Homo sapiens: one gene and its partners. The protein of the gene in region 1 interacts with the protein of each later gene in a biochemical or structural test. Each region holds a gene or a part of one and is shown in the gene's direction. Other genes may lie near its edges. The genes, in order: RAB1A, GOLGA2, RNF115 and CHML.

What was found.
Region 2: the proteins of RAB1A (region 1) and GOLGA2 form a complex in vitro, tested with the Homo sapiens proteins (2 studies listed by BioGRID).
Region 3: the proteins of RAB1A (region 1) and RNF115 form a complex in vitro, tested with the Homo sapiens proteins (one study listed by BioGRID).
Region 4: the proteins of RAB1A (region 1) and CHML form a complex in vitro, tested with the Homo sapiens proteins (2 studies listed by BioGRID).

The regions. Positions count from the first base shown.
Region 1 is NC_000002.12:65,092,101-65,099,129, reverse strand, and holds part of RAB1A (ras-related protein Rab-1A), read left to right. Parts: intron 1-1,063; coding exon 1,064-1,159; intron 1,160-7,029. UniProt on the Homo sapiens protein: The small GTPases Rab are key regulators of intracellular membrane trafficking, from the formation of transport vesicles to their fusion with membranes.
Region 2 is NC_000009.12:128,273,008-128,280,805, reverse strand, and holds the start of GOLGA2 (golgin subfamily A member 2), read left to right. Parts: upstream 1-4,798; 5' UTR 4,799-4,829; coding exon 4,830-4,913; intron 4,914-5,309; coding exon of another isoform or gene 5,310-5,398; exon of another isoform or gene 5,399-5,450; intron 5,451-6,833; coding exon 6,834-6,956; intron 6,957-7,798. Other genes in the region: DNA repair protein SWI5 homolog, read right to left, coding at 4,051-4,219, 5,310-5,398. UniProt on the Homo sapiens protein: Peripheral membrane component of the cis-Golgi stack that acts as a membrane skeleton that maintains the structure of the Golgi apparatus, and as a vesicle thether that facilitates vesicle fusion to the Golgi membrane.
Region 3 is NC_000001.11:145,744,082-145,751,110, reverse strand, and holds part of RNF115 (E3 ubiquitin-protein ligase RNF115), read left to right. Parts: intron 1-610; coding exon 611-704; intron 705-3,000; coding exon 3,001-3,116; intron 3,117-4,113; coding exon 4,114-4,245; 3' UTR 4,246-7,029. UniProt on the Homo sapiens protein: E3 ubiquitin-protein ligase that catalyzes the 'Lys-48'- and/or 'Lys-63'-linked polyubiquitination of various substrates and thereby plays a role in a number of signaling pathways including autophagy, innate immunity, cell proliferation and cell death.
Region 4 is NC_000001.11:241,637,370-241,644,866, reverse strand, and holds the start of CHML (rab proteins geranylgeranyltransferase component A 2), read left to right. Parts: upstream 1-4,497; 5' UTR 4,498-4,612; coding exon of another isoform or gene 4,613-4,985; intron 4,986-7,497. Other genes in the region: OPN3 (opsin-3), read left to right, coding at 4,613-4,985. UniProt on the Homo sapiens protein: Substrate-binding subunit (component A) of the Rab geranylgeranyltransferase (GGTase) complex. Binds unprenylated Rab proteins and presents the substrate peptide to the catalytic component B.

The DNA.
Region 1 (7,029 bases):
CATGGTGGCTCACACCTGTAATCCCAGCACTTTGAGAGGCTCAGGCAGGGGGATCACTAGAGGTCAGGAGTTTGAGACCAGCCTGACCATCATCACGAAACCCTGTCTCTACTAAACGTACAAAAATTAGGCAGGCGTGGTGATGCACGCCTGTAGTCCCTACTACTCAGGTGGCTGAGTCATGAGGATTGCTTGGACCCCGGGAGACAGAGGTTGCAGTGAGCTGAGATCATGACACTGCACTCCAGCATGGGCAACAGAGCAACATCCTGCCTCAAAAAAAAAAAAAAAAAGAAGTACTGTTACATGGTACAACATGGATGAACCTTGAAAACATTCTGCTAAATGAAGGAAGACAGACACAGAGGGCCACATATTTTATGATTCCATTTATACGAAATGTCCAAAATTGGCAAATCTAAAGAGAAAGTAGATTAGTGGTTGCCAGGGAGTGAAGACGGGTTCTTTCTGGAGTGAAGAAAATGTCCTGGAATTCGTGGTTGTAGTTTGCAACCTTGTGAATGTATAAGGACCACTGAATTGTCCACTTCAAAAGGGTGACTTTTATGTTATGTGCATTATATCTAAAAAAAAAAATCATAATTAGGAAGCAAGATTGACTTCTAAGAAAAAGCGGAGTGAAATTGTTGTTTTGTGGTGAATAAATTGGGTGGGTGGGTCGCAAGAGTTTTGCTGATTAGTGATTAGAAAAATTATTCATAATCATTGAAAATATAAAATATTTTTCTATATGATGTATGTAAAGAATTTGGCAAGAGATGATGTTTGGAAAAAATAAAGAATGGCTATTGTAGAGATCTTAAGGAAAGAAACTACAGTTAAGTAGTGCTTTGTAATCAGAATATGAAGTAAGTACTGAAAGTGGATGGAGTGGCTGTTGTCAGCATGTTATACTTTATACATTTCATTCATAAATTTGGACTGTAGATAAAAGTAAACTTTTTTTTTATTTACTCTTGAACAACAGTTTTTTTTTTTCCACTTAGACTTGCATCTGCTCCACTGAACAATACATTTAATTGTTAATTATTTCCCCCTTCAGGATGATACATATACAGAAAGCTACATCAGCACAATTGGTGTGGATTTCAAAATAAGAACTATAGAGTTAGACGGGAAAACAATCAAGCTTCAAATAGTAAGTGACTTGGCTAGTAATTTTTTTGAAATTTATTTTGGTAAATTTGTAATGTATTGTTATTTTGTATATATTTACTATGCTAACAAAATTGAATGTAAAATGTCTTAAGATTCATGTACTTAAGATAGAATGGTAGAATAAGAATTACTTAGATTAAAAATAATATTTTCAAGATTACTTAAGCCTCATTGAATTTTCTATTCATGAAGCAGAGAAACTCATGTTTTAAGTCAAACTTGGTCCTCATCTTTTTCTTTTATCAGTGGAAATCTAAGTTCAAGTTTACCTTGTCCTACACTGCAAATGTTATAGACCATTTTTGTTTGTCTTTTACTGTGCTAAGTGCATGGAACATTAAAGGAACCCTAGGAAGAGATTCTTCATATGTGGCTCAGTTGAAGAGAAGTACTTATGTAGTTCTAAGTATTTTTATTAGATAGTGTGCACCAACTCTGTAGAAACACAGAATTTTGTTGGAAAAAGGAACTTAGTTTTTGTAACATGTTCATTTTACTGCTCAAAAAAACGAATGCTGAAAGATTTAATGACTTGCCTACAGTTACTGGTAGAACCAAGTGACCGAAGCTCTGTCTTCAATATTTTGTGTCTCTGTGCCATCCTATCCCCCTTATCCATCTTTACACCCCCAGCCCCCAATTAAATATAGGCAATTATAATAGTTCAGTTGTGCCTCTTCAGTATGGGTCTGAGTCCTGTCAGTGTGGGCATATCTGTGGTCTTTTAAAAAATAAATCTCTCAGTATTTTTCAGAGTAGGCTATTAGCAAGAAGTAGGCTATAAACACAGGAAACCAGTGACTGCCCCTTTTCATGGAACTGATGACACATGGAATTGGAAGGAGTCCTGCATTAGGAGTCAGAAGACTTAGATTTGTTGTCTTGGTTCTAGTATTTACCTGTTAGAGAATCATGGGTTTGTGTCTCTGGGGAAAAGGCCGAAGTAACCCTGAGACCCAGTTTCCTTTCTAAAATGTGTGTGATGACACCTGATTTACTAATTTATAAGCTAGTTGTGAGAACCAACTGTAATAGCTTTGTGTATGTGACAATACGTGTGAAAGCCCTTTGTAAACTTTTGGGCAGCATATAGATACTACTTATGATATGACATGCCCAGATAAATGGGTGTTTGATAGGTTAAGTTGCTCCCTTTTCTTACATGACTCTGATGAGGAAAAGAAGGTATGTTAACAAAAGATAGGTGGCTGTGGATATTGATATAAGTAAACACACTTGATGTGTCAAATTAGGACTTGCAAGGATTTAGTTTTCAGAAATAGCTTGAAATACTTTCAATCAGTGAACAAATTACCCTCCATATTTTTTCCCACGATATAAGTACAGTCTCAACCTTTTATTTGGCACCATAAAGAGCACATAAAGATCTACCCAAAACTGTACTTTAAAGCACTGGTATGGAATAATTGTATTATGTGTGATCATTGGTGTTTATAAGATTTGGGTGTGTATTCGTGTGTGAAACATTCATATTTTGTTACTTTCCTGTGGCTGGAAGGGATCTTATAGGACACTGTCTTTCATCTTTGTCTGTCTTTCATCTTTAATAGGAATTTCTTTTCCATGCCTGAAGGCCTCATTTTGAACATTTTGTTTGTTTGTTTTTTTATTTTTTGAGATACAGTATTGCTCTGTCTCCCAGGCTGGAGTGCAGTGGCGCGATTTGAGCTCACTGCAACCTCCGCCTCCTGGGTTCAAGTGATTCTCCTGCCTTAGCCTCCCTAATAGCTGGGATTATATGTGTGTACCACCATGCCCGGACAATTTTTTTTTTTTTGAGATGGAGCCTTGCTTTGTCGCCCAGGCTGGAGTGCAGTGGTGCAATCTTGGCTCGCTGCAGCCTCCGCCTCCCAGGTTCAAGCAGTTCTCTTGCCTCAGCCTCCTGAGTAGCTGGGATTACAGGCGTGCGCCACCACACCCTGCTAATTTTTTGTATTTTTAGTAGAGACAGAGTTTCACCATGTTGGTTAGGCTGGTCTCGAACTCCTGACCTCGTGATCTGCCTGACTCGGCTTCCCAAAGTGCTGGGATTACAGGCATGAGCCACTGTGCCCAGCCTTCCGATAATTTTTGTATTTTTCGTAGAGATGGGATTTCGCCATGTTGGCCAGGCTGGTCTCAAACTCCTTACCTCAAGTGATCCACCCGTCTTGGCCTCCCAAAGTGCTGGGATTACAGGCGTGAGCCACCACGCCTGGGTTTTTGAACATTTTTAAGAAGCTTACCATTTTTTCGAAATAGCTAGTTCCATTTTACACATAACTTCAGCTAGGCATGTTGCCTCATGCCTGTAATCCCAGCACTTTGGGAGGCCGAGGTCAGAGAGTCACTTGAGGCCAGGAGTCAACATAGCTCCTGTGACCAGCCTGGTCAACATAGAGACTCTATCTCTACCAAAAAAAAAAAAAAAAAAGTAACCAGGTGTGGTGGTCCATGCCTGTAGTCCTAGCTCCCCAGGAGACTGAGGTGGGAGGAATGTTTGAGCCCAGGACTTCAAGGCTGCAGTGAGGCAAGATTGCACCATTGCACCCCAGCTTTGGGGACAGAGTGAGAGACCCTGTCTCAAAAACAAAATAAGGCTGGGCGCAGTGGCTGTCCGGGCGTCGTGGTTCACGCTTATAGTCCTAGCACTTTGGGAGGCCAAGGTGGGCAGATTGCCTGAGCTCAGGAGGTCTAAGACCAGCCTGAGCAACATGGCGAAACCTCATCTTTGCAAAACATACAGAAAAAAACAAAAAAAACCACAAAACCTCTAGTTGCCAGTTATTTTTTTTATTTATTCCTAGTGATTCTTCTTTTTTTCTTTTTTCTGAGACAAAAATTTCACTTTGTCTCCCTCGCTAGAGTGCAGCGGTCAGCTCACTACATGATTCTTTTAGAGACATGTTAATTCTTTATATTGAGCTGAAGCCTGTTTCTTTTACTTCTGTCTCTTCTTATTCCTCCGCCTTGTAGAGCTGCCTGAATCAGATTAATTCCTCTTTTATTGGCAAGCCTGCCCTTCAGATTGATCTTATCACAACCTTTCTTCTACCTCTGAAGTCCTCATTCTTTCCTGTAATGATATTTTCAGAACCTTGTGCAATTTGGGTTATTCTTACATTTTATAAATGCCTTTTATTAAATTTGATTTCTTAAATCAAGTATGAGATATAACACATGAGGTAAATCCTGTCTTGATTTGGAGCCTGAATGAATTTCTCTCTTGAACTTCAAGGGCTCATGGCCCTTTCTTATTATTAATCAAAGACAACCATTTGTTGTTTCAGTAGCTATATTATTTCTAGTTTGGGTCTTAAGGTTTTTGATTTGCTTGTTTTTTCTTTTTTCTTTTTTTTTTTTTTTGAGACGGAGTTTCGCTCTTGTTGCCCAGACTGGAGTGCAATGGCGTGATCTCGGCTCACTGCAACCTCCGCCTCCCAGGTTCAAGCGATTCTTCTGCCTCAGCCTCCCTAGTAGCAGGGATTACAGGCATGTGCCACCACGCCGGGCTAATTTTGTATTTTTAGTAGAGATGGGGTTTCTCCATGTTGGTCACGCTGGTCTCGAACTCCCGACCTCAGGTGATCCGCCTGCCTTGGCCTCCCAAAGTGCTGGGATTACAGTCGTGAGCCACGGCGCCTGGCCGATTTGCTTGTTTTTAATTAAAATAGGGGCCTTGGCCAGGTGCAGTTGTTCACCCCTGTAATCCCAGTACTTTGGGAGGCTGAGGCAGGCAGATCTCTTGAGTTCAGGAGTTCAAGACCAGTATGGGCAACATGGTGAAACCCTGTCTCTACCAAAAACACAAAATTCAGCCAGGCATGGTGGTGTGTCCCTGTAGTTCAAGGTACTCAGGAGGCTGAGGTGGGAGGATTGCTTGAGCCCGGAGATGGAGGTTGCGGTGAGCCAAGATTGTGCCATTTGCACTCTAGCCTGGGCAACAGAGCGAGACCTTGTTTCAAAAAAAAAAAAGAAGAGGGTCTCACTTTACACTTCTGTGACTGGTGTTTTAAAAATCTAAACACAGGCCGGGCACGGTGGCTCACGCCTGTAATCCCAGCACTTTGGGAGGCAGAGGCACGCAGATCACAAGGTCAGGAGTTCGTGACCAGCCTGGCCAGCATGGTGAAGCCCATCTCTACTAAAAATACAAAAAAATTAGCTGGGCATGGTGGCAGGTGCCTGTAATCCCAGCTACTTGGGAGGCTGAGACAGGGGAATCACTTGAACCCAGGAGGCGGAGATTGCAGTGAGCCAAGATTGCGCCATTGCACTCCAGCCTGGTGACAGAGCGAGACTCCGTCTGAAAAAAAAAAAAAAAAATCTAAACACAAGATTTTACTTTTAATCCTATCATTTCCTCTTGCTTGGCTTCAGTAATCCTTCAAGTTTTCTAGGTCTTTTCAAAATCTTGATTCTGTTGATTTATATTTTAATTATCTTTTCCTTTCAGCTTTTCCTGTTCAGGTGTGACATCTGGGTCTTTATCTGAGTTTTATTAGATTATAAAACATTCAGCAAGATAGGGCAGGTACTGAGTCCAGTTGTACACCATGGAAGGCCTCTTTCTGTGATTGTTCATTCATGAGGCTTTATGAAAATGTCTACATTACACCAGGCACTTGGAGGTTACAGAGATGAATAAAACATAGTCCATTAGGAGGCAGACAATGGGAGAGACAAACATGGGAAAAAGTTACTCTGATTATGAGGAGTAATGAGAATTACATATGAAGGAAAGTATTGTTAGTACTGTTAGGATTTAGTGTCAGGAAAGTTTTCAGAGTAGCAAGGAAACATCAGAAATTTTACTCTTTCTGCCAGGCATGGTGCATGTATTATTCTGTTCTCACACTGCCACAAGGAACTGACCAAAACTGGGTGATTTATTAAAAAAAAGGTTTAATTGACTCATAGTTCTGCATGGCTGAGGAGGCCTCAGGAAACTTACTGTGGCAGAAAGGGAAGCAGGCACGTCTTACATGGCAGGAGGCGAGAGAGTGTGAAGGAAGTGAAGGGGGAAGAGCCCCTTATGAGACCATCAGATCTTGTGAGAATTCATTCACTATCACTTGAATGGGGGAAACCGTCGTCATAATCCAATCACTTCTCCATAATCCAATCACTTCCCTCAGTGATTACAACTTGAGATGAGATTTGGGTGGGGACACAGAGCCAAACCATATCAGTGCCTGTAGTCCCAGTTACTTGGAGGCTGAGGCAGGAGGAACACTTGAGCCCAGGAGTTCAAGATCTGCCTGGGCAACATAGCAATACCTCCATTTTGGATAAAAAGGAAATTTTACTTTTTGGGTGCCATTGCTTACTTTAATCAGCTGTAACTTCTTGTTGACTTTTAGTCAAAAAACAATTTTTCCTTCTATCTTTGTGAAAGAGGTTGGTGAGCAAGGAAGAAAAGGAAACTTGCTTTATTGAGCAGCTTCTATAGTCAGGCACATTTTACAAACATTAGTTCATTTAAACCCCTTTAGCTGTTGTACAAGGTGAATGCTATCTAGCATTTACAGATGAAGAAACTGTTAGGTGACTCTCCCTAATATTAAATAACCAGGAACCTGGATTTGATGTTTTGAAGTCAGGGTAGCTTGATCCTCGAGTTCATGCTTCCTCCAAGGATACACTGAAAGACTTTGAGCCTCTTTTTTTTTTTTTCTCTTTTTTTGAGACAGGATCTGGCTCTCTTGCCCAGAGTGCAGTGGTGTGATCTCAGCTCACTGCAACCTCTGCCTCCTGGGCTCAAGCGATTCTGCCTCAGCCTCTCGAGTAGCTGGGACCACAGGCGCACGCCAGCATACTTGGCTAATTTTTGGATTTTTAGTAGAGACA
Region 2 (7,798 bases), on another chromosome or scaffold:
GTGGCTCACGCCTGTAATCCCAGCACTTTGGGAGGCGGAGGCGGGAGGATCACGAGGTCAGGAGATCAAGACCATCCTGGGTAACATGGTGAAACCCCGTCTCTACTAAAAATACAAAAAATTAGCTGGGCGTGGTGGCGGGCGCCTGTAGTCCCAGCTAGTCGGGAGGCTGAGGTAGGCGAATCGCTTGAACCCTGGAGGCAGCGGTTGCAGTGAGCCGAGATTGCACCACTGTACTCCAGCACTCCAGCCTGGGTGGCAGAGCGAGACTCTTGTTTTTTTTTTTTTTTTTTTTAAAAAGAACAGATGCAACCATGAGTAGTGCTATTAGAAAGGAGAAGAGGCAGAGCACACTTCAAGAGCTTGGGGTTCCTCTGATGATGCAAGGGCAGTTGGAGGAGTTGGTTTTGTGGTCCTGGTTAGGAGGCTGAGTGTGATTTCAGACTTGGCAAGTGGGAAGGCAAAGATTCTGCAGGCAGCTCTGGGTGTCCCAAGAAAGGTCAGGGCTGGAGAGAGATAGGAGGGTTGTGGGCACTGGGGTGGGCTGAGGGAGTGGGAGTCAGAACTTGGAGCAGGTGTGTAGAAAGAGAATGGCAAGAGGAGAGCAGAGCCACCCGGAAATGTGTGGGCAAAGGATTACCCAGGTGCTGAGGCAAGAGACTGAAGGCACAAACTGTTTCAGTATAATAAAGAAAATAGAATAAGAATAGTCACAACACAAATTAGATATAGAGATGATCATGGACAATTATCAATCATTAGTATAAACACTATTAATCATTAGCTTTTAATATTACTCCTTGTTGCACTACTAATATAACCTAAGAATAACCGGCAAGTATAGGGTCAGGTGCTGAAGGAACATTGTGAGAAGTGACCTAGAAGGCAAGAGGTGAGCCCTCTGTCACACCTGCATAAGGGCCGCTTGAGGGCTCCTTGGTCAAGCGGTAATGCCAGTGTCTGGGAAGGCACCCGTTACCTAGCAGACCGTGAAAGGGAGTCTCCTTTCCTTGGAGGAGTCAGGAAACACTCTGCTCCACCAGCTTCCTGTGGGAGGCTGGATATTATCCAGGCCGGCCCGCAGTCATCCGGAGGCCTAAACCCCTCCCTGTGGGGCTGTGCTTCAATGGTCACGCTCCTTGTCCACTTTTATGTTCCTTCCATACTCCTGGTTTCTCTTTGAAGTTCATAGTAGATAGTGGTAGAAGAAACAGTGAAAGTCTTAAAGTCTTTGATCTTTCTGATAAGTGCATAGAAGAAAATGCTGACGTATGCTGCCTTCCCTCTCTGCTTTGGCTACCTAGAAGGGAAGGGCCCACTGGCCCACGATCATGTGACTTGCTTGATCTTATCAATCACTTGGACGACTCACCTTCCTTACCCTGCCCCCCTTGTTTTGTATGCAGTAAATATCAGCGTGCCCAGCCATTCTGGGCCACTACCGGTCTCCACGTCTTGGTGGTAGTGGTCCCCTGGGCCCAGCGGTTTTCTCTTTATCTCTTTGTCTTGTGTCTTTATTTCTTACAATCTCTTGTCTCCGCACATGGGGAGAACGCCCACCAAGCCCCGTAGGGCTGGATCCTACAGAAATGCCCACATTTACCTCAGGAGTGGCAGGAAGCAAAGGAGCCAGCCGAGCGGGCACAGAAAAAGAGGCAGGAGAGGTCAGGAGGGTGCTCCTGCAAATAGGCCCAGAGAGGAGCAAGCCCAAGGTACCGCTTAAGAGTTCAGTTCAAGCCCAGGCACGGTGGCTCATGCCTGTAATCCCAGCACTTTGGGAGGCTGAGGCGGGTGGATCACTGAGGTCAGGAGTTTGAGACCAGCCTGGCCAACATGGCAAAACCGTCTCTACTAAAAATATAAAAATTAGCCGGGCATGGTGGCGGGCACCTGTAATCCCAGCTACTAGGGAGGCTGAGGCTGGAGAATCACTTGAACCTGGGAGGCAGAGGTTGCAGTGAGCCAAGATCGTGTCATTGCATTCCAGCCTGGGCGACAGAGCAAGATTCCGTCTCAAATAAAAAAAAACAAAAAAAACCAAAAACAACTCAGTTTCTCAGTTTAAAGCCCCCAGCTCTGCCACGTCCTGGCTATATTCATCTCTCTGGAACTCACAGGCCTCACCTCAACATGGGGACAGTAAAGCGTCTTCTCAAAGGTTGCTGGAAGGAACTGGAAAGATGATGCATGTAAAGTAAGCTGATGGGACAATGCTCAATAGAGCCTCCTTTTTTTTTTTTTTGAGATGGAGTTTCGCTCTGTTGCCCAGGCTGGAGTGCAGGGTGATCTCGGCTCACTGCAACCTCCACCCCCTGGGTTCAAGCGATTCTCCTGCCTCAGTCTCCCAAGTAGCTGGGATTACAGGCATGTACCACTATGCTCAGCTAATTTTTGTATTTTTAGTAGAGATGGGGCTTCACCATGTTGGGCAGACTGGTCAAACTCCTGACCTCAGGTGATCCACTCACCTTAGCCTCCCAAAGTGCTGGGATTATAGGCGTGAGTCACTGTGCCGGGTCGAGCGTTGTTTTTAAAAATGGAAGGAATGGAAGCTGGGCATGGTGGCTCATGCCTGTAATCCCAGCACTTTGGGAGGCCGAGGCGGGCAGGTTGCTTTGAGCTCACGAGTTTGAGACCAGCCTGGGCAACATGGCGAAAATTTGTCTCTACTGAAAATACAAAAAAATTAGCCAGGCGTCATGGCACACAACTGTGGTTCCAGCTATTTGGGACGCTGAGGCAAGAGGATGGGTTGGGCCTGGGAGGCAGAGGTTACAGTGAGCCCAGATCGCACCATTGCACTCCAGCCCGGGCGACAGAGTGCGACTGTGTCTCAAAAAAAAAAAAAAAAAAAAAAGAGAAGGAATGAATTAGCATGAATGAGAAAGGCATGATCTGCAGTGAGTTACCGCATGGTCAAAGACAGTGGATACCAACCCACTTGCAGAGAGAAGCTCAATCAGCCCAGTGCTTTTGGCAAACTATGGCTGCCACCCCGTCATCGTCATCTGAGCTCACTGTGAGTTGCCCTTCAGGCCCTGCCTCTGACCCTGCCATCTCTGGAGAGCCCTCTTTGCAAGCCCAAGCCTGGGCTCCCCATCTCAGAACCATGTGCATACTTGTCCTGGAATTATTTTTTTGCCTGTGGCTCCTGGAGGGCAGGGGGCTATCTGGCATACACCTGCATTGCAGCAGTTGCTAAATCAATGAACAAATACCAAGTCTTTCCCGATCTAACTTCTTTTTTGTTTTTGAGACTTGTCTAGCTCTGTTGTCCAGGCTGGAGTGCAGTGGTGCAATCTCGGCTTACTGCAACCTCCACCTTCCGGGTTCAAGCAATTCTCCTGCCTCAGCCTCCTGAGTAGTTGGGATTACAGGCCTGCACCACCACGCTCGGCTGATTTTTTTGTATTTTTAGTAGAGACAGGGTTTCATCATGTTGGGCAGGCTGGTCTTGAACTCCTGACCTCAAATGATCTGCCCGCCTCAGCCTCCCAAAGTGCTGGGATTACAGGTGTGAGCCACTGCACCCGGCCCTCACGATCTACCTTAAGAGTGGTGGTAGTTGTAGTGGCAACTCCATCTGGGGGATGAGAGAAGGAGTAGGCTGCGTTTTGGGGGTGGCTTGCCAGCGAAGAGGAGAGACTATTAGCAACGAAAGGAGTGGCCAGGGTGAACGCCAAGCATTTTCCTGACTGGGGAGCTATGGGTTTGTTTAAAGGCAGGGCTGGGTGAGGGGTGAAAAGAGCGAGGAGGAGAGATGGCTGGTGCTGGACTGGAGTGAAAGGCATCTGAGGAGCCAGGAGACAGGATGGGGAGGGAGAGGAGTTAGCCTAGGACAGGACAGGATAACACTTCTTTGAAGACTGGCGGGCATGAGGAAAGGAAGGGGAGGGATTCGGGAATGACCTGGCGGTTCTCAGTCGACTGGGAGAAGATATGGAAGAGGGCCAAGCGGGGATTGGCTGCTGTTGGGATGGGGAGTGGGGCCGGGAGCGCACAAGGGAAGGTCGAGGATGGGAAAGGGGGTGTGGGGGAAGAAATACTCACAGGGGATCGGAAGGCCCCGCGGCAACTTCGGGTAAGTCTTGGTTCAGTCCTAGAGAGGAATCCGAGGGGAAAGTCTGATTGGACCCACAGCCCGCTGTGAGGACGGGGTACTGTGGGGATGCGGGAGGAGGAGCAGTTGGGAAGTAGGAGCGCCAGGGACTGGATCCATCTGGAAAGGGGGCAGACACGCTCTCAGGATCAGGGTAGAGACCCTCTAGGAAGGGGGCGTTCTGAGACGGGGGTTGTCTGGAGCACTGGATGGGAGTCTTTGGAGGTGATTTCTGGGAAGGGAGAGTCTGGGGCAGGGCTGTGAGGAGTCAGGAAAGAAACTGTGGAGTCCGTTCCTCGCCCACCTCCTGAGCCCTGGGGTCCGAGGCCCCCGGATCAGGGGGTTCAATGGCGCAAGAGGGTCCAGCGCGGGAGTCGGAGAGCGACCTCTCAGGTGCACCGGGCCAGGAACTCTGACCCGGAGTGTGAACTGGCGCACAGAAAGCTGCGCGCGCACCCAAGGAAAGCCGGCCCCGCCCCTCTCCCGAGGTGGGCGGGGACAGCGGTTGCGTGCGCAGCTTTTGTTGTGACGCCACAGGTCCCTCTGGCCACGCCGCTGCATAGCCACGCCCCCTTCCGCTTCATATTTCTCATTGACCAATGGGCTTTGATCTTTGAGGCCACGCCCCCATTCTGCGCTCCAGTATCGCCCTGGTTACGCCTCCTCTGGCTCCGTCGCACAGCTGCGCGGTGGCTGACTGACTTCCGCAGTGGTTGCCGGGATCGCGCTGATGTGGCCCCAACCCCGCCTCCCTCCCCGCCCCGCGATGTCGGAAGAAACCCGACAGAGCAAATTGGCCGCAGCGAAGAAAAAGGTAAAGTGCACCGGGTCGCGGCCCCCCGACCCAGCCCCAGCCCCACTCCGATGGCAGGACCATGGCCAGAGTCTCTGCCACTCCTGAGGCACACCGGGCTGGGCTCCCCACGGCGCGTCCGGGCTCCCTCCACCAAAGTCTTGTCAGCCAGCCCCGCCCCCTCAGCCGCCCAGCCCCCGCCCTCGCCAGTCGCCCCCGGGTGACTTTGGGCTGGTGCTCCCGGGGCTCCCCGCTCCAGACTCGGCCCTCACCTCCTGCCCCCCGAAGTCCGACCTCCCTGGGCTCTTTGGGCTGGCGTCTCCAAGGACCTAGGACCCCAGCAATTCAGCCCCTGCCCTCGCCAGTGACTTTGGGCCCGTGACTCCCGGGGCCCCCCGCTCCAGACTCGACCCTCACCTCCTGCCGCCCCAAACCGGACCTCCCGGGGTTCTTTGGTCTCGGGTCTCCAAGGACCTGGGTCCTGGCCCTGCGGTCCCCTCCCCCATCGCGGAGCGGCGACTTGGACGTCGCGCTGATGTTCCCCCTAGGAGTGGAATGTAGTGACGTCACAATCCCCCTCGGAACCGTAATTAGTTGCGCGAGACCAGTCTTTGATCTTAGGACCCAGTCCCCTAAGTGTTCTCATCCCGCTTCTGGTTCCTCTGGTCACAGCATAAATTTCCAGCTGGAAGGGGATTGGGGACTATGGGACCTAGGAGGGAGAGGTTTCAGGCTGCCTTACACCCTTAACATAGACATTGACAGTGTGAAAAGCCTACACTTCACCCGTGAACTGAAAACATTGGCAGTATCTCTGGGTGGCAATGTGAGAACGGGATTGGTTTGGTTTTCCCCCAGGCTTCTACTCTCCAGAGAGACTTTAACATTTTTTTCTGACTTCTCCACCTCATATTCGAATTCTCCATGGTTCTGGGACCAGAGTGCCCTTCAGTGGTCTCTGGAATGAGATCTGCTTATCTTCTGTGGAACAGGTCTTGGGAAACTGAACTTGACAGCTTGAATCTTCCTCATATCATCTCAACCTGGGGTACTTGGAGTGCCACAGGATAAATACGGGGCATCTTTCTGAAGCATCAGTCTCCCTTTATTCTCTTGAGAGAGAAAAAACATTAATGTACTTAGGGATGACAGTCACATAAATTTCTAAGAGTATACCAGACTTTTCTCTGAAATGAGGCTTGGGTTGTCCTCTTTCTGTTAAATTCCCAGGTTCAACAGAAAGGCTGCCTTCTGCCATGTGGATACATTGATGTAAAAGTTTGAGAGGCATTGGTGCATTTCTTAACATTACCAAACGTGTGAGGATGTATGACTCTAAACCACACAGTGTACAGTTCCTGCCGACTTAATGTTCCGGCCCACATTTTAAGATACATATTTATTTTTAGAGAGGGGGTGTCACTGTGTTGCCCAGTCTGACCTTGAACTCCTGGCCTTAAGTAATCCTCCTGCCTTAGCCTCCCAGGTAGCTGGGACTCCAGGCTTGACTTCTCCACCTCATATTTGAATTCTCCTTGGTGGAGTGGAATGTAGTGATGTCGCAGTCCCCCTCGGAACCGTAATTAGTGCGTGAAACCAGCTTTTGATCTTAGGACCCAATCCCTAAGTGTTCTCATCCCGTTTCTGGGATGAGAGGTGGAAAAGTACCTCTGCCTCTGGTTTTGGCCCCTGGCAGCTGCTGATTTGTGGCAAAACCCCAGAGCTTGGAGTCAGAAGACTGAGTTTAAGTTCAATTCTTGCCTTTTTTAAGCCATGGTATCAATCCCTCTCAGTCACTAAGTGATTGTGACAAGAACTTGTGGAGTTGTTAGTGGCATTAAATCAGATGGTATATAAGAGTATTTTGGAAAAATTGTAAAGTAGGATGTAACTGTGGGGGCTTGTAGATCTCATGAATATTATTGCTCTTCTTTTCCACAGTTGAGAGAATATCAGCAGAGGAATAGCCCTGGTGTTCCTACAGGAGCGAAAAAGAAGAAGAAAATAAAAAATGGCAGTAACCCTGAGACAACCACTTCTGGTGGTTGCCACTCACCTGAGGATGTGAGTCTTGGATGGCCAGGCTCCTGGGGACAGGGGGCCCAAGGGGCAGTAGAGGGTAATTGTTATGATTGTGGAAGAACTGTTGGGTACTGATTAAGAGTTCTGGGTTTGTATCCTACCTGTCCATCTGCTAGGGATGTGATTTAGGGCAAATTGCTTGAGCTTTTTGGGCCTCTCTTTTCACAACTATAAAGTATTGTTTTACTTACACTTGTGAAGTTTAAATGAGATTTGTTATTGTTGTTTTTATGTTAATCCCTAGTACAGGGCCTGCTGTCCTAAACACCCAGGACACCCAGGAAATGGTAGTTGCTGTTTCATTTTCCTCATCTCCAGTCTCAAAGGGAAGCCAGGCCAATGAGAACAGCTACTTGCCATCAGGCTATCCCTTTAGGAGTCACTGAAAGGGCCCCAGGGTGTGGTGAGGAGAGTCCCAGGTGCTAGGATTAGGGGAAGATCTAACTTTTGAGTTCATCTTTGCCACCAGCTTGCTGCGTGACCACAGAAAAACCACTTCTTCCCCTGGGCCTCAGTTTCCTCCTCTGTGAGGTGACATTGGATATGATCAGTGTCTTTCAAACTTGTTTTTTAGCTGGAGCCCCCTTTGTTCAAGTGAACCCTTACTCAGAAGTCTGGTTTTTAAAATGGAGGTGGAGGTTTGTAGTTCTACTAGATTCATTGCCCACATCCTGGGCCTAAGGAGAAGGGTCCAAACAGGATATTAAGAGCTGCATTGGTCAGGTGACTCCACTCTGTGTGACTGCATCGTTCAGGGGACTTTTCCATCTATTTGTTTCTGCCCCTGGCAAGGCAGCAGGTGGCCATTTGGAAGGATGGCACAG
Region 3 (7,029 bases), on another chromosome or scaffold:
GTTTCCTCACATGTTGAAGCAGGGATTTCTGCTAGATGGAGCAAAGTAGGGGAAGGAAGCAGAGAAAAAAGTATTCCCATGCCATGTATAATTGCTTCCACTTGTTTATGTTCATTTTAATTTGATTGGTTTTTCATTTCCGTTGTGGATTTCTGAGACTAGAAAGCATGTCCTTTATATTCAGTCGTCTTATAGGCAGTAATTTACCTATTTCTTGGCTCACGTTATGCTACTTTTCATACTCTCGCTTTTTTCTTCTTCCAGAAGATGAAGCTTTTGGACCAGTTACATTTTACTTTTTATTAAGCTATAGTTTTACTCGTGACACCACAACCCTTTTGCTGCCTCTGAAGTTGCTTTATGCCTAGAGGTGGGCCTTGCAATCATGGGTTTGTCTGTAGGCTTATACGAACGTCACTCTGAAATTGTAAAGCAATTATGAGTGTTCTGGCAGCAGGAAAGGGGAAACCCAAGCCTCTCAGAGCCTTGCAGAAGTAAGAGTAACTAACATACCTAATGTCTGCACTGTTTGTTCTCAGCTGGAGCAGTTCCCTCTCCAGGGATATTGCGATGTCTGCCACTTCGTCTTTTTCTTTCTCTTTTTTTGTAGCTTTTAGGACAACTGGAAAACACAGGCCCTCCCCCAGCTGACAAGGAAAAGATCACATCTCTTCCAACAGTGACAGTAACTCAGGAACAAGTTGGTAGGTTCATTTTTATACTTATTCTGTCATCTTCTGATCTCGGTTCAAAATCCCGGTATCTTCTGACAGGTGAAAAGTTTAAAAAGTGAACAAAATAAAAAGACAAAAAAATAAGAAAAAAAATCCCAATACCTTCCTATATTAAGGACCTTTAAGTGAAGCTATAGCCCTCTAAAATTCCTATCTGGGTGCCAAATCTGGAAAGTTCCTACCCCTTTATTAGGTTAGTCAGTTGGTATTTCCTGAGCAATTATGTCTCTTTTTTAGGTGCCATTGGGAATAAAGAGGTACAAAGATAGATAAGAATTGATTGTAACAAGTTGAAGAAAAACTGATCAAATGATTAAAAACTGTGTTGGACACATGATACTGACATTGGGGAAAGGAGAAGAAAAAAATAGGCTGGGAGTTTGTTTCAAATCTACTTTGTGTCAGGTACAGTTAGGTATCTTAGTCATAGATACTATTTTATTTGTAAGCACTGGAGGAATTTAGTGACAAGGGACAGCATTTTGGTCTGGGAGTTTCTGTTCCCATCAGTTCGGGTTTAGAGTTAGAGATTTTAAAGACAAGGTGGGCTATCTTAGGTCATTCTATTTAAGGAAAAGTATGAACTAATATACGTGGTGTGTGAGTCAGGTAAAGTGGTCTTTAGGGAAGATTAGTCTAGGGGCAGTGTGTGAAACATTGGAAGTGAGAGAGAGCAGAAACAGGGATTTTAGAGTGTTGCAGCAGTCCAGATGAGGTTCAGTTGATGGTGACAATGCTAACAGAAAGGAAAGGATTCAGAAGATCATTTTGGAGAAATGCTTTCCTCACTCATTGCATAATGGGATGAAGAAGGGGAAAGAGTCAAAGAGAATTCTGAGATTTCACAGCTTTGTAACTATAAACATGGTGCTGCCATCTTAAGGGACAGGGAAATAGTGAATGGACCCTGGTTTGGGTAAGGAGATGAGGTGATGTTTTACATTTTTTAATTTGTTGATTTTTGAGGTGCCAGCTGAGAATCCAAGTGAAGAGGAGCTGGGGATTGCTGTGGAGCTGGTTTGAGGGAAAACTAAGTTGTAGCAAAGTATAGGATATATTTGGAGGGTTAAGACCGTGGAATTTGGGATACTAGCTGGGAGGCTGTTGCAGCAGACTAGGCATGAGAAGTAAAAGAATTAGGGCTAAGGTGATAGGAATGGAGAGTAAGGAGTGAATCTATTAAGTAGTAGTACTGCTCCAAATGCCTTATCTGCTGTTAGTTCATGGAGCATATCCCAGCCACTAGGCGTATAGACTAGCTGACAGTATTAGCCAAATTTGGGAAACTCAAAACTTGCTGCTTGGAGCTCCCAGTATAGTTCATGACTGTTTCTTCTCAGAGAAGAGGGCTTTCTGTCTCTTGATTTGGTGACCTGAGCTAGACTTCGACTTTGCAGTTCTGCAGCACCACTTCTGGTATAGCTTTTCTGGTATGGCTTCTGGTATTTTCTTCTTTTCTGGTATAGCTTTTATTAATAATTTTTTTTTTTTTTGAGACAGAGTCTTGCTCTGTCATCCAGGCTGGAGTGCAGTGGCGCAATCTTGGCTCTCTGCAACCTCCGCCTCCCGGGTTCAAGCAATTCTCTGCCTCAGCCTCCTGAGTAGGTGGGTTTACAGGCGCTCACCATCACACCCAGCTAATCTTTGTATTTTTAGTAGAGACAGGGTTTTTACCATCTTGGCCAGGCTGGTCTTGAACTCCTGACCTCGTGATCCACCCGCCTTCACCCTCATTAACAGTTTTTACAGAGGACTTTAGGACAGCCACACTGAAATAGGATGCTTCATCCCATGCTGAAAAGAGCATGGTGAAAGTGGCAAGTGGCTTGAGACGCTGCACTGATAAGATTGCTGAGATGAATCCCTTGGCTATGGTGGACAGATTCACAGTAGCAACTGACTGCCAGAGGGCTGTCACACATTGGGAAGATGTTTTTCCTGTTTTACTGAGCAGATCATCTAAGCCCCAGTTTATTTCTTCCAACTCTTTACATCAAAAAATAGGCCTTATATAGTTCCTATATAGGCCTTTTTGGAGTAGGCCCCATTCATCATTCCTTCTTTTCATGTCTCTGTCTACTACCACCTTTACCCTCATTTTGAAATACAAGTCATGCCTCTTAGCTGCCTGCTACTTGGGTGTACATTTTCTTTTGTCTCTTGTGTCTTTTCTTTATGCATTCGTAGGGTTGGTAGAGACATTGGGTTAGTTTTTTCTTCTTTCCTTTTGCCTGTTTACTTTAAAAGGCATTTCCTTCTTCAACAGATATGGGTTTAGAGTGTCCAGTATGCAAAGAAGATTACACAGTTGAAGAGGAAGTCCGGCAGTTACCTTGCAATCACTTCTTTCACAGCAGTTGTATTGTGCCGTGGCTAGAACTGGTGAGTACAGCAAGTCATGGCTTCTTTGGGGGATGATTCAGAGTAAAGGTATAGTTAACAGTTCCTCGAGATCCAAGTAGATCAGATTTTATCCCATAAATCCCTGGCTTACTCTGATACTGTTATTTGTTTGGAACTTTTCTGACCAAGGGTTGCAAACTATGTTCTACAGGTCATTGTGTCCTGCCACCTGTTATTGTAAATAAAATTTTATTGGAACACAGCTATGTTCATTTGGTTATAGATTGTGGCTACTTTTGTGCTACGTCAGCAGAGTTGATTAGTTGTAACAGCTGTGGTGTGGCCTGCAAAGCCTAAAATACTTATTTTCTGTCCCTTATGTATTTGTTTTGAGACAGAGTCTCACTCTGTCACCCAGACTGGAGTGCAGTGGCGTGATCTCAGCTCACTGAAACCTCTACCTCCTGGTTTCAAGTGATTCTTGTGTCTCAGTCTCCAGAGTAGCTAGGATTACAGGCGTGCACCACCATGCCCAGCCAATTTTTGTGTTTTTAGTAGAGACAGGGTTTCGCCATGCTGATCTCAAACTCCTGACCTCAGGTGATCCACCTGCCTCGGCCTCCCAAAGTATTGGGATCACAGGTGTGAGCCACTGCACTCGGCCAATTTTCCTGTCCCTTTAAACAAAAAGTTTGCTGACCTCTGCTCTAGACCATATTGGGAAGTAATGGGCAGTTACCCTCCTGTCATAGATCACTCACTGTTTCTGGTTCGTTCTGTTTGGTGGTATGTATTAGCTGTTATTAACTTGCTGGCCTAGAATTATTCCTGTCAGTTCTGCTTAAAGTTCTGTTTGGGAGATATCCTGGTATCACACCTTAGAGCCAGTGCATGCTCTATGAGGATGCATTCTCTATTGTTTTTCTGTTCCATGTCATAATTTTTGATGTGACAATTCTCAGGGTTATTTAAGTGTACAATACTCCCAGCTTCTCAGGCCAGGATCTTCACATAGACTAATATTTTTCTGTTTCAGCATGACACATGTCCTGTATGTAGGAAGAGCTTAAATGGTGAGGACTCTACTCGGCAAAGCCAGAGCACTGAGGCCTCTGCAAGCAACAGATTTAGCAATGACAGTCAGCTACATGACCGATGGACTTTCTGAAGCTAAAGACCACACCTGAATCAGGGCTGTGGTAATCATCTTACCATAGCTGTAAATTGTATCAAAACAAAAAATTAGTAGATGGATTTAGGAATATGTAAGAAACTCAACACATAATATAAATGCAATGAATGTTTTTCTTCTTTAAATTTAAAGTTAGTATCTACAGATGGAATTGTATCTACAACCAAATGCCTCTTATCCCTGAATTCAGAGTGATAATTTTATAAGTGTGAAACTTAATTATGTAGGGCTCCCCCCGTCTGAATAGAATTAATTCCTTAAAGTCTAGTTAGGGTCCTGCTGTCTGTCATGTTGCCTTGTAACGGATGTTTCCACCTCCTTCTCCAACCTCTACCCCACCATTAGTGTATTTTACTATAAAAACAGTGGAACCACAGCCCTAAAGTCCTGCTGATATAAAGTCCTTTTGTCTTAATTGTATTTAAAAAAAAAAAAAACTACTCTTGATCACATTAGCTATGAGGCGAGGTCAAATTCAGGTATCTAAGACTAATGATTTTGTTTTGTCTTGATCCCCAGAGAGCAAATCAAAGAAAAATTACAGCAAGAAGAGAAAAGTGGTTTATCATTGTGTGCTTTGGTTTTCTTATTTTAATTTTTTTTGTTTTTTTTTTTTGAGATGGAGTCTCGCTCTGTCGCCTAGGCTGAAGTGCAGTGGCACGATCTTGGCTCATTGCAAACTCTGCCTCCTGAGTTCAAGCGATTCTCCTACCTCAGCCTCCGGAGTAGCTGGGACCACAGGCATTTGTTACCATGCCCAGCTAATTTTTTGTATATTTAGTAGAGATGGGGTTTCACCGTGTTAGCCAGGATGGTCTCAATCTCCTGACCTTGTGCTCCGCCTGCCTCAGCCTCCCAAAGTGCTGGGATTACAGGCGTGAGCCACTGCGCCTGGCCTCTTATTTTAATTTTTAAAGACTACTTCAGTTGATGCAGTTTCCCAAGAAACCTACATAACATATATTGGGAGCCTTATGTTGATAGGAATCTGATTCCCATTCCTTTTTGGGAATGAGTTGGGCAGCATACAGGCACAGAAAGACAGATGTTTGAGACCTTTGCTTCTGAGATTTTAAAAAATGATTACCGCTGGGCGCGGTGGCTCACGCCTGTAATCCCAGCACTTTGGGAGGCCGAGGCAGGCGGATCACAAGGTCAAGAGATCAAGACCAGCCTGGCCAACAAGGTAAAACCTTGTCTCTACTAAAAATATAAAATTAGCTGGGCGTGGTGGTGCATGCCTGTAATCCCAGCTACTCATGAGGCTGAGGTGGGAGAATCGCTTGAACCCAGGAGGTGGAGGTTGCGGTGAGCCGGATCATACCAATGCACTCCAGTCTGGGCAACAAGAGCGAAACTCCATCTCAAAAAAAAAAAAAAAATCCCCAACTCACTGCTTTTTTTGTTTGTTTCTGTCGCCTAGGCTGGAGTGCAGTGGCACGATCTCAGCTCACCACAGCCTCGACCTCCCAGGCTCAAGTGATCCTCCCACCTCAGCCTACCAAGTGGCTGGGACTACAGGCGTGTGCCACCATGCCTGGGTAATTTTTGTATTTTTGTAGAGATAGGGTTTTGCCGTGTTGCCCAGGCTGGTCTCAAACTCCTGGGCTCAAGTGATCTGCCTGCCTCAACCTCTCAAAGTGCTCAACTCATTGTTTACTGTCTTTTTTCCTAGTAATCTTAAAATAATTTGCCTCACAGAAATAGAGACAGTAAGTGTCTGCAGCCAGTTCACTGTTTTTGGTAATTCATTGGTCTTCAGGAGTTAAGATTTTACATTGTCACATTTTAATTTTTAAGCCTATTTTTCATCTCTGAAACTTTCCTTTTCTCCTTGGTTCTGGCTATACTTGGACTCAAACTGATCAGTGTGATCATGTCCAAAACAGCTTGGCCTGGAAGAGGTAGGCCTTATTTTTTCAGCCTAGTAGTGTCCCATGCACATGCTCTTTGTAGCATTCAAGTGTTTAACATTGGATAAATTAAGAAGGTCAAGAATGTTGTTGAAACTTCAAGGTCTCAAAAGGAAATGATGGGGACATAGAACAACTGTTGGTGTACCAAAAAAAGGTACAGAGGGGCACCATTTGTATTGTCACACAACAATGATCAGAATGATCAGTTTAGAATGATCAGAACAAAAACACCACTCTTTAATGGGTCTTTTTCTTGGCTAGAAGTCTTTCCTCAGTTTTTGTTGACTATCATACGCTGATTTGTGGGTGACGGAAGGGGGCTAGAGATAACGTTTCTCTGTACTTTGGTAAAGGATGAAGGAGTCAGAGAGGGAACAGAAAAAGTGAGAGAGTGGCCTGCTGAAATAATAGCCTGCCTCTAAAAGTTGTGACCAGAAAGTATGATTCATTTGGGCCCAGAGGGAATAAAATATGTTTTTTCATATACCTCCCATATTACACCTCTGTAGTGATTGTTTATTTGGGGAATGAGATCTACTTACTGTGCGTTGCCCCTGAAATGTAGCTTGAGAATACACACTGGTTTTGAATTGGGGAGGAGGATGGAAGGAAATTAGAGGTGTATTATGAATATTTGGCCACTACTTAGATGGAGGAAGGCTATGTTGAACTTGGGACACATTGCAGTTTTCAAGTACACAATATCAGTTGTCTCAGAAAAATCATGACAGCCTGGACATATTTGCTTGTCAGTGTCTGGAGATGCCAGGACAGGCAGTTGTAGTTTTACGTACAGATAGAGAACCAATGCCTAGAGAACTAGAAAGGATCTGAGTACCTTTAA
Region 4 (7,497 bases), on another chromosome or scaffold:
GTAATGTTTTCAAGGTTCATCCATGTTGTAGCATGTACTAGAATTTCATTTCTTTTAAAATATGGCTGTATAATATTCCATTGTATGTATATATCACATTCCATGTATCATTCATCTGTTGATGGGCATTTGAGTTGTTTCTATTTTTTGGCTATTTTGAATAATCCTATTATGAACATAAGTATACAAATACCTGTTTGAGTCCCTGCTTTCAATTCTTTTGTGTATATACCTAGGAATAGGATTGCTAGATCATATGGCAATTTTTTTTGTTTTGAGACAGGGTCTCACTCTCTTGCCCAGGGTGGAGCGCAGTGACACGATCACAGCTCACTGCAACCTCAAACTCCTGGGCTCAAGGGATCCTTCTGCCTCAGCCTCCTGAATAGTTGGGTGAGACTACAGGTATGTGCCACCACACCCAGCTAATTTTTTATTTTTTTCTGAAGAGATGGGGTCTTACTATGTTGCCCAGGCTGGTCATTGTACTCTTGGCCTCAAGTGATCATCCTGCTTAAGCTTCCCAAAGCACTGGGATTACAGGAATGAGCTCACAATAATTCTATGTTTAACTTTTTGTGGAACTACCAAATTGTCTTCCACAGGAGCCACACCATTTCACATTCCCATCAGCAGTACGACAGGGTTCTAATTTCTACACATCTCCACACAAAAACCAACACTTGTTTTTGTGTTTTGTTTTGTTTTTTGATGATAGCCCTTCTAGTAGGTGTGAAGTGGTATGTCATTGTGGCTTTGATTTGCATTTCCCTAATGACTAATCACAGTAAGTTTCCTTCCATGTGCTTTTAGGCCATTAGTATATTTTTGGAGTAATGTCTACTCAGATCCTTTGCCTATTTCTGAATTGGGTTGTGTGGAGTTTTTTGTTGTTGAGTTGTAGGGGGTCTTTATAATATTGATGCCTTATCAGATATATGACTTGCAAGTATTTCTCCCATTTGCTGTGCTGTCTTTTCACTCTTTTGATAGTGCCCTTTGATGCATAACAGTTTTTAATTTTGATAAAGTCCAATTTAGCTATTTTTCTCCTGTTGCCTGTGCTTTTGGTGTCATACCCAAGAAGTTTTCTTCTAAAAGTTTTATAGTTTTAGCTTTTACATATAGGTCTCCAATCAATTTTGAGTTAATTTTTATATATGATATAATGTAAGGCTCCAACTTCATTCATTTGCACATGGATATGCAGTTTTCCCAGCATCATTTGTTGAAAAGACTGTCCTTTCCTCCTTTCCCCATTGAATGGCCTTGGCATCCTTGTCAAAAATCAATGGACCATATATGTAAGAGTTTATATCTTGGCTCTCTATTCTATTCCATTGGTCTACATGTTTGTCCTTATGCTGTGTATTAGGCTGTTCTTGCACTGCTGTAAATACCTGAGACTGGGTAATTTATAAAGAAAAGCGATTTAATTGGCTCACAGTTCTGCAGGCTGTACAGGAAGCATGGTGTTGGCATCTACTCAGCTTCTGGGGAGGCCTCAGGGAGCTTTTACTCATGGTGGAAGGCAAAGTGAGAGCAGGCATCTCACATGGCGACAACCAGATAGGGAGAGAGAGAGAGAGAGAGTGGGATGGCGGAGTTGCCACACACTTTTAGATGACCAGAGCTCACTTATCACAAAGGGGATGGCCCAGGCCATTCATGAGGGATCCGCCCCCTATGACCAAAACACCTACCACTAGGACCCACCTCTAATATTGGGGATTATATTTCAACATGAGATTTGGGTGGGGACAAACATCCAAACTATATCATGCTGGTGTTTTTCATTTGTTTGTTTTTTGTTTTTTTTTTTAATAAAAGATTGTAGTGTTCTGCCATTATCCTGTCATTACATAATTCTAAAATTAAAAAAGAAACATATATCCTTATCATTGCCTGTTTCTGTCAAGCTCAATAAATGTCCTTAATGGTTCATAGTATTGTAAAATTACTGTGTCAAAAATGCTTAAGCATTTGTCAAAGGCCTCTTACTCCTCCTTTGCATTCACTGCTAGTAGGCATTGCCCTGGACTTTACTCTGATTGAGTAAAAGCCAAAGTCCTTTTATTGAAATGGCCAAGGTCCTGCATATTCTGGCCATTCACTGCACACCCACCTGACTGGCTGCATTTCCCGATTCTCATTCTTGCTTCCTTATTGTTCCTCCAACATACCAATACAGTACTCCTGCCCATAACCACCTTGTCTAAATAACAACCTTGACAGAGCAGGTGCATCACCATCATGGACAAGCACTGCCATTTTAAAGTTCCCCTTGATCAAAAACCACCTAAATCCAAACAGCATCAGCCTAATGGCTAAGGTCAGCATGACCATACACCACAAATGACATCTCCGACCAGAAACATTCCAACCCTAAGATAAACCCCTCCCTGACCAGAGACATGCGAGCCCCGAGATAACCTCCCCTCCGACAGAGACATTCCAACTTGGCAATAAACTTCTTCTCCAAACAGAAACATTCCACGCCTGTGATAAGCTCTCTCACTCTAAAATCCTTAAATACTCTTAGTCTGTAAGAGAGTGCTCCTGACCGAAATCGGCCAGAAGCCCCTCTTAGGTTTATTCTTCCAAATAACACTGTCTGACTGTTGAGCTGCTATTAGTGTTTCTTTCCTCTTTCTTTAACTCTTACAAACTCCTTGCCCCATCTCCCATAGCTCCTGGCTCAACCTCCTGAGTAGCTGGGACCACAGACATGTACCATCTTGCCTGGCTAATTTTCTATTTTTTGAAGAGTTAGGGGGCAGTTCTCACTTTGTTGCCCAGGCTGGTCTTGAACTCCTGGGCTTAAGAAATCCTACTGCCTCGGCCTCCCAAAGTGCTGGGGTTACAGGAATGAGCCACCACGCCTGACCCCTATTTCTTCATGGCATTTGTCAGTGGCTGACACCCTACGTATTTATCTAATTTTTGTTTGTTCTCCCAACACGACTGGAATGTGAGCTTTATAAGGGCAATGACTCAGCAATGAAGAATGAATAGGAAAAAATATAGCGAGTTCTTTATTCATTCATTCAAATTACTATTTATTGAGAACTTACTGTAGACTAGACACAGAAAACACTTTCGACATTAAACATATAGAACTTGTTAAATAGTTATGTTTTGTTCAGTGGTTGTACAAATCTAAAATTAACAATTAAAAGTGTGTGTGTGTTTTTTAAGGGGTGGGTGGGTAGGAAGTCTCACAGATGGCGAGTCCAGAGCAGAAGCCTTGAAGGAAAATCAAGGTGTCAAAGGCAGAGCACACTGCCCCTTAGCTATTGCTCAGTGCACCAGGGTGGAGAGCTGCTGCCAGCCTATTAGATCCTCTCTCCAGGGAATTCAGAATGTGGATTGATCCAAGCTAGTCATTCCCTACTGATCTTTCAAACAGAGGTGAGGCACGCCCGTATGGAGAGCAGTTTCTTTAGCTTGCACAAACCCTGTGTTCGTCACCAGTGTCCAGGACAGGCTGCAGGTGTGGCTGGGGACTGTGATCTTCTTGTAGGGCCTCCTTAGGGATTGTGCAACCACAAAGGCAGAAGCAGCTCTTGCAGAGTGTGATGACGTTCACAACCTATATTTGACTTGTACTATATTCTCATCACTACAGGAGAAGAGGCCCAATGGGAAATGTGTGCTGTTCTAAATATAGCACCTGCCTCCTATACCTGCTAGATTTAGGTTGAATCTTTCACTGCCTGTGAAGGACTTTAGCAGGCCTCAGTGACCGGAAAGATCTACCCACGCTTTCAAGCACAGGAAGGACGGTATTGGAAGGCCTTGGGGTCCAGCCCAGGGCTTAAAGTCAGTTCCATTGGAATGCCATTTTCAGAGAGTTTTCATCCCAGACTCTCCAAGGGTGGCAGGCTCTTGTATCAGCCCTGGGACATGTGTCCTCTAGCAGTCAGGTAGTTAGGCAGGCACCTGTCTATCAATTTGTTGTTTTTCTTCTCAGTTTTCCGGTAAGACTACCCCGAGCTCTTCAATGTTTTCTTTGCTTTTGTTTACATTGAGTGTATGACGCGGGATGGGCTTCGTAGGCTGGTTGTGGGTTATTACAGCTTCCCAGGAAGGGGAGAAACCCAATTCTTGCCAGCACGTGGTGGGCGCAGGCGCTCATAAATACTTAGGAATAAATGAATGTATAAGTGAGTGCATGAATGGGTGAGTGGACACGAAGCTTTCAAGGTGGGTGCAGGGAGGTGGGGGTGTGAAGAGCCATCGAGGCTACCCTGCGGCCCTGGCCCCCAGGCTATCCCGCGACGCGCGTCCACGCCGACCAGCGGAAGGTGCCCAGCCAGTGGGGGCGGGGCGAGCTAGCCGCGAGGACGCGCCCGCGGGGGGGCGGGGCTAAGAGGACGCGCCGGGAGCAGCGGAGCGACGAGGACAGGCCGCGGGGAGGGGCGGGGCCACGGGGGGTGCGCCGGGCGGAAGGGGCGGGAAGAGGGCGGGCCCGGCGCGCGGTAGCGCGGGCCCCTCAGTGCACAATGGCTAGAGCAGGCGGCGGAGCCCCAACCCCACCCAGTGCGGAGCGCGCCGCGAGCCCCGCCGCAAGCTGAGCGCCTCCGCCCGCCAGGCGCGCCGGCGCCGGGCCATGTACTCGGGGAACCGCAGCGGCGGCCACGGCTACTGGGACGGCGGCGGGGCCGCGGGCGCTGAGGGGCCGGCGCCGGCGGGGACACTGAGCCCCGCGCCCCTCTTCAGCCCCGGCACCTACGAGCGCCTGGCGCTGCTGCTGGGCTCCATTGGGCTGCTGGGCGTCGGCAACAACCTGCTGGTGCTCGTCCTCTACTACAAGTTCCAGCGGCTCCGCACTCCCACTCACCTCCTCCTGGTCAACATCAGCCTCAGCGACCTGCTGGTGTCCCTCTTCGGGGTCACCTTTACCTTCGTGTCCTGCCTGAGGAACGGCTGGGTGTGGGACACCGTGGGCTGCGTGTGGGACGGGTTTAGCGGCAGCCTCTTCGGTGAGTTGGACTGGGAGAAGGCAGCCTCCCCTCTGCAAACTTCCACTCCCCACCCCGCTGCCCGCTCCGTGCGTCCGCCCCCCAGCCCGCCCCGCACCGCTTCCCGCTCGGCCCCGCGCCCCCCGCCCTACACCGCCCCGCTCCCCGCTCGCCTCCTCAACGCTGCCCGACCCCAGCCGCATGGCGGGTGCCTTCCTCTTCCTCCGTCCCCTCCCGCCCCACGCTGTCCAGGACTCCATTCCTGTGGTCTCTCATCTGCCCCCCACGTTGACCCCAAACCCCGGCCCGCCTCCTTTCTTATTTGTTTTTACCTCCTAAGATCACTCAACAAGGCACGAAACCACGGCTTTTTACACTTTGAGGAAAGAGACGAGGGCCTGTAGAGTCAAGAGATTCAAGAAAAAAAGTGATTAACTCGTGAAAGTTGGAGGGAGTGATGAGATTAGATTCATGTACTACTATTTGTTTCCTAAAATGAGAGTAGAAAACCAAAATAACAATGTGTAAAAAAAAATTCTCATTAGTACTTGTAAACCTTTGAATGCTTTCTAGGGAATGAGACAGTTTCATTCAGGTCCTCAGAATGCAAATTGGCATGTGCCCTGTAAGCTGTTTTTACTATTTTCCGTCTTATAGATGGGTTCCAGCACACCAGAATCTTGGGTGAGATTACAAATGGCTCAGCCAATACCATCTCAGGTGAACAAATACTGTAATTAGCTCTGCAATCGGTAGATTTCATTAAAGTAGAACTTCATTGTTGAAGATGTATTTCGACAGTACTCTTATTATGGAAGATTTAAGTTTCACTGAGACATGATGTTTTGAAGGATGATCAACAACTCAGCAAATCATTGAAGGAAGCGTAGAAAGGAAATTATTTTTTTGTGTGCCTCAGGAATTTCATTTGTAGGGAGATTTGAAATAGAAATGTGTATTTCTCAAGGCTTAAAGTTCCTTTTTTAAATCCTGAAATCCATTGATACTTTATTGCTTTAATCTTGGTAGGTTTGGGAGAACAAAAATCTTTGTAGAATTATCAAAAATATTTTCTTATTCAGTAACCTCTATGCTATGACAAACCCAAATATTATATTTGTAATGATTCATTTTTTGGCGTTTTGAAGGAAATAAGAAAATAGATTTTATTTGATTGCTTCAGAGGTTATAATATTTTCCTCCCCGCCCCTCATAAGCTTTAATCTGATAATTTCATTTGAACAAACATTTGAAATTTAGGGAGGGGACTGCAAGTGTATGTAGGCTGTGGTATGGACGACTATGGGATTACACTCCTTATATTAATTGTAAAATACCTATCAGGCAGTTTCTTCGGCAATGCTAAGAAGGTTATTCAAGCCCAAGCCTAAAGTATCATCAGTAGTGTTCTCCAGGGTAGTCAACAGGTGTTTGTTCACAGACATCAAAGTTCTTTTTTCCTTGAAGTGCCTTTTCTGTGCTGGAAAATTCTGTTTTCGTGCCCGGGAGTTTGAACACAAGGGTGTACTGAGTTCTTTATAAGTGCTAGCTGTCATCCACCCTCTTCCTCACCTCTTTCCTCTGCTGATCCCACCCTCCTGTGTCTCCTGGTCACTTCTCCCTTCCTGTTTTTCTTCTTCACCATCCCTCCTAGGGTCCCAGCCCAGTGATTTTCTAAGTTCACTTAGATTTTTGCCTGAGGGCTGCCCTATTTTTCAGGGCATTTAGTGCTTTCAACCATGACTTTCTCCCTGTTTTTAATGTAGAGGTGGAAACCCTGAGATAAGAGATTCCGAGACTTAAGCCCTGGGGGGCAAGTTAGTAGTGAAGTTACTATAGAGTTTAAAAAGTTTTTAGCGAAGATGATTTCTTTGCCTGGAGTAAATTCCGGAGTTTGTGCTTCTAGATCCAGGTTAAGGATGAAGAAAAGGAGGGCACTTCCTGAGTTATCCCTGAGCAAGAACTACCTAACAGTGGAGTATTGAAGGGGAGGAAGTTAAAAATGAGGGAAGTAGCTTCTTGATGCAGAGGCTTTTGGAGAGGCTTGCCCTATCTGTTGGAAAGACCATTGGTCTGATGGCACAAGAGTGGATCCTGTTCCTTATCCTGCGACTCATGCATTGTGCGGGCTTTCTCAAGTCACTTAATCTCTCCAGCTATCAGTTCTCTCATCTCTATTATTGGGTAATTCAGCTTAATGCTCTGTAAGGCCATCCTACTTGCTTTGCATTTTGATGACCCCTTTGATATCTGTAGGTTAGAACGTGCCTGATCTTAGCGCTTATTGATTGTGTCTTCTGCTCCTACTCCTACCCTGAGCCCTGTCTTTCTAAGCCAAGAAGCAGCATGTACTATGGTTACACCTCTTCAGATACCATCATAGATTCAGTCTCCATCTTCACACCCTGCTGGAAGAAGCAGAATAAGTAATTCAGACATACTTATATTTATACTTGAGTGGGCCAGGCAACTGCTGCATTCTGTACTTAGTTCCTGGCTTCTTAGGGAATGCCAAAAATGAGTGGAATCCTTG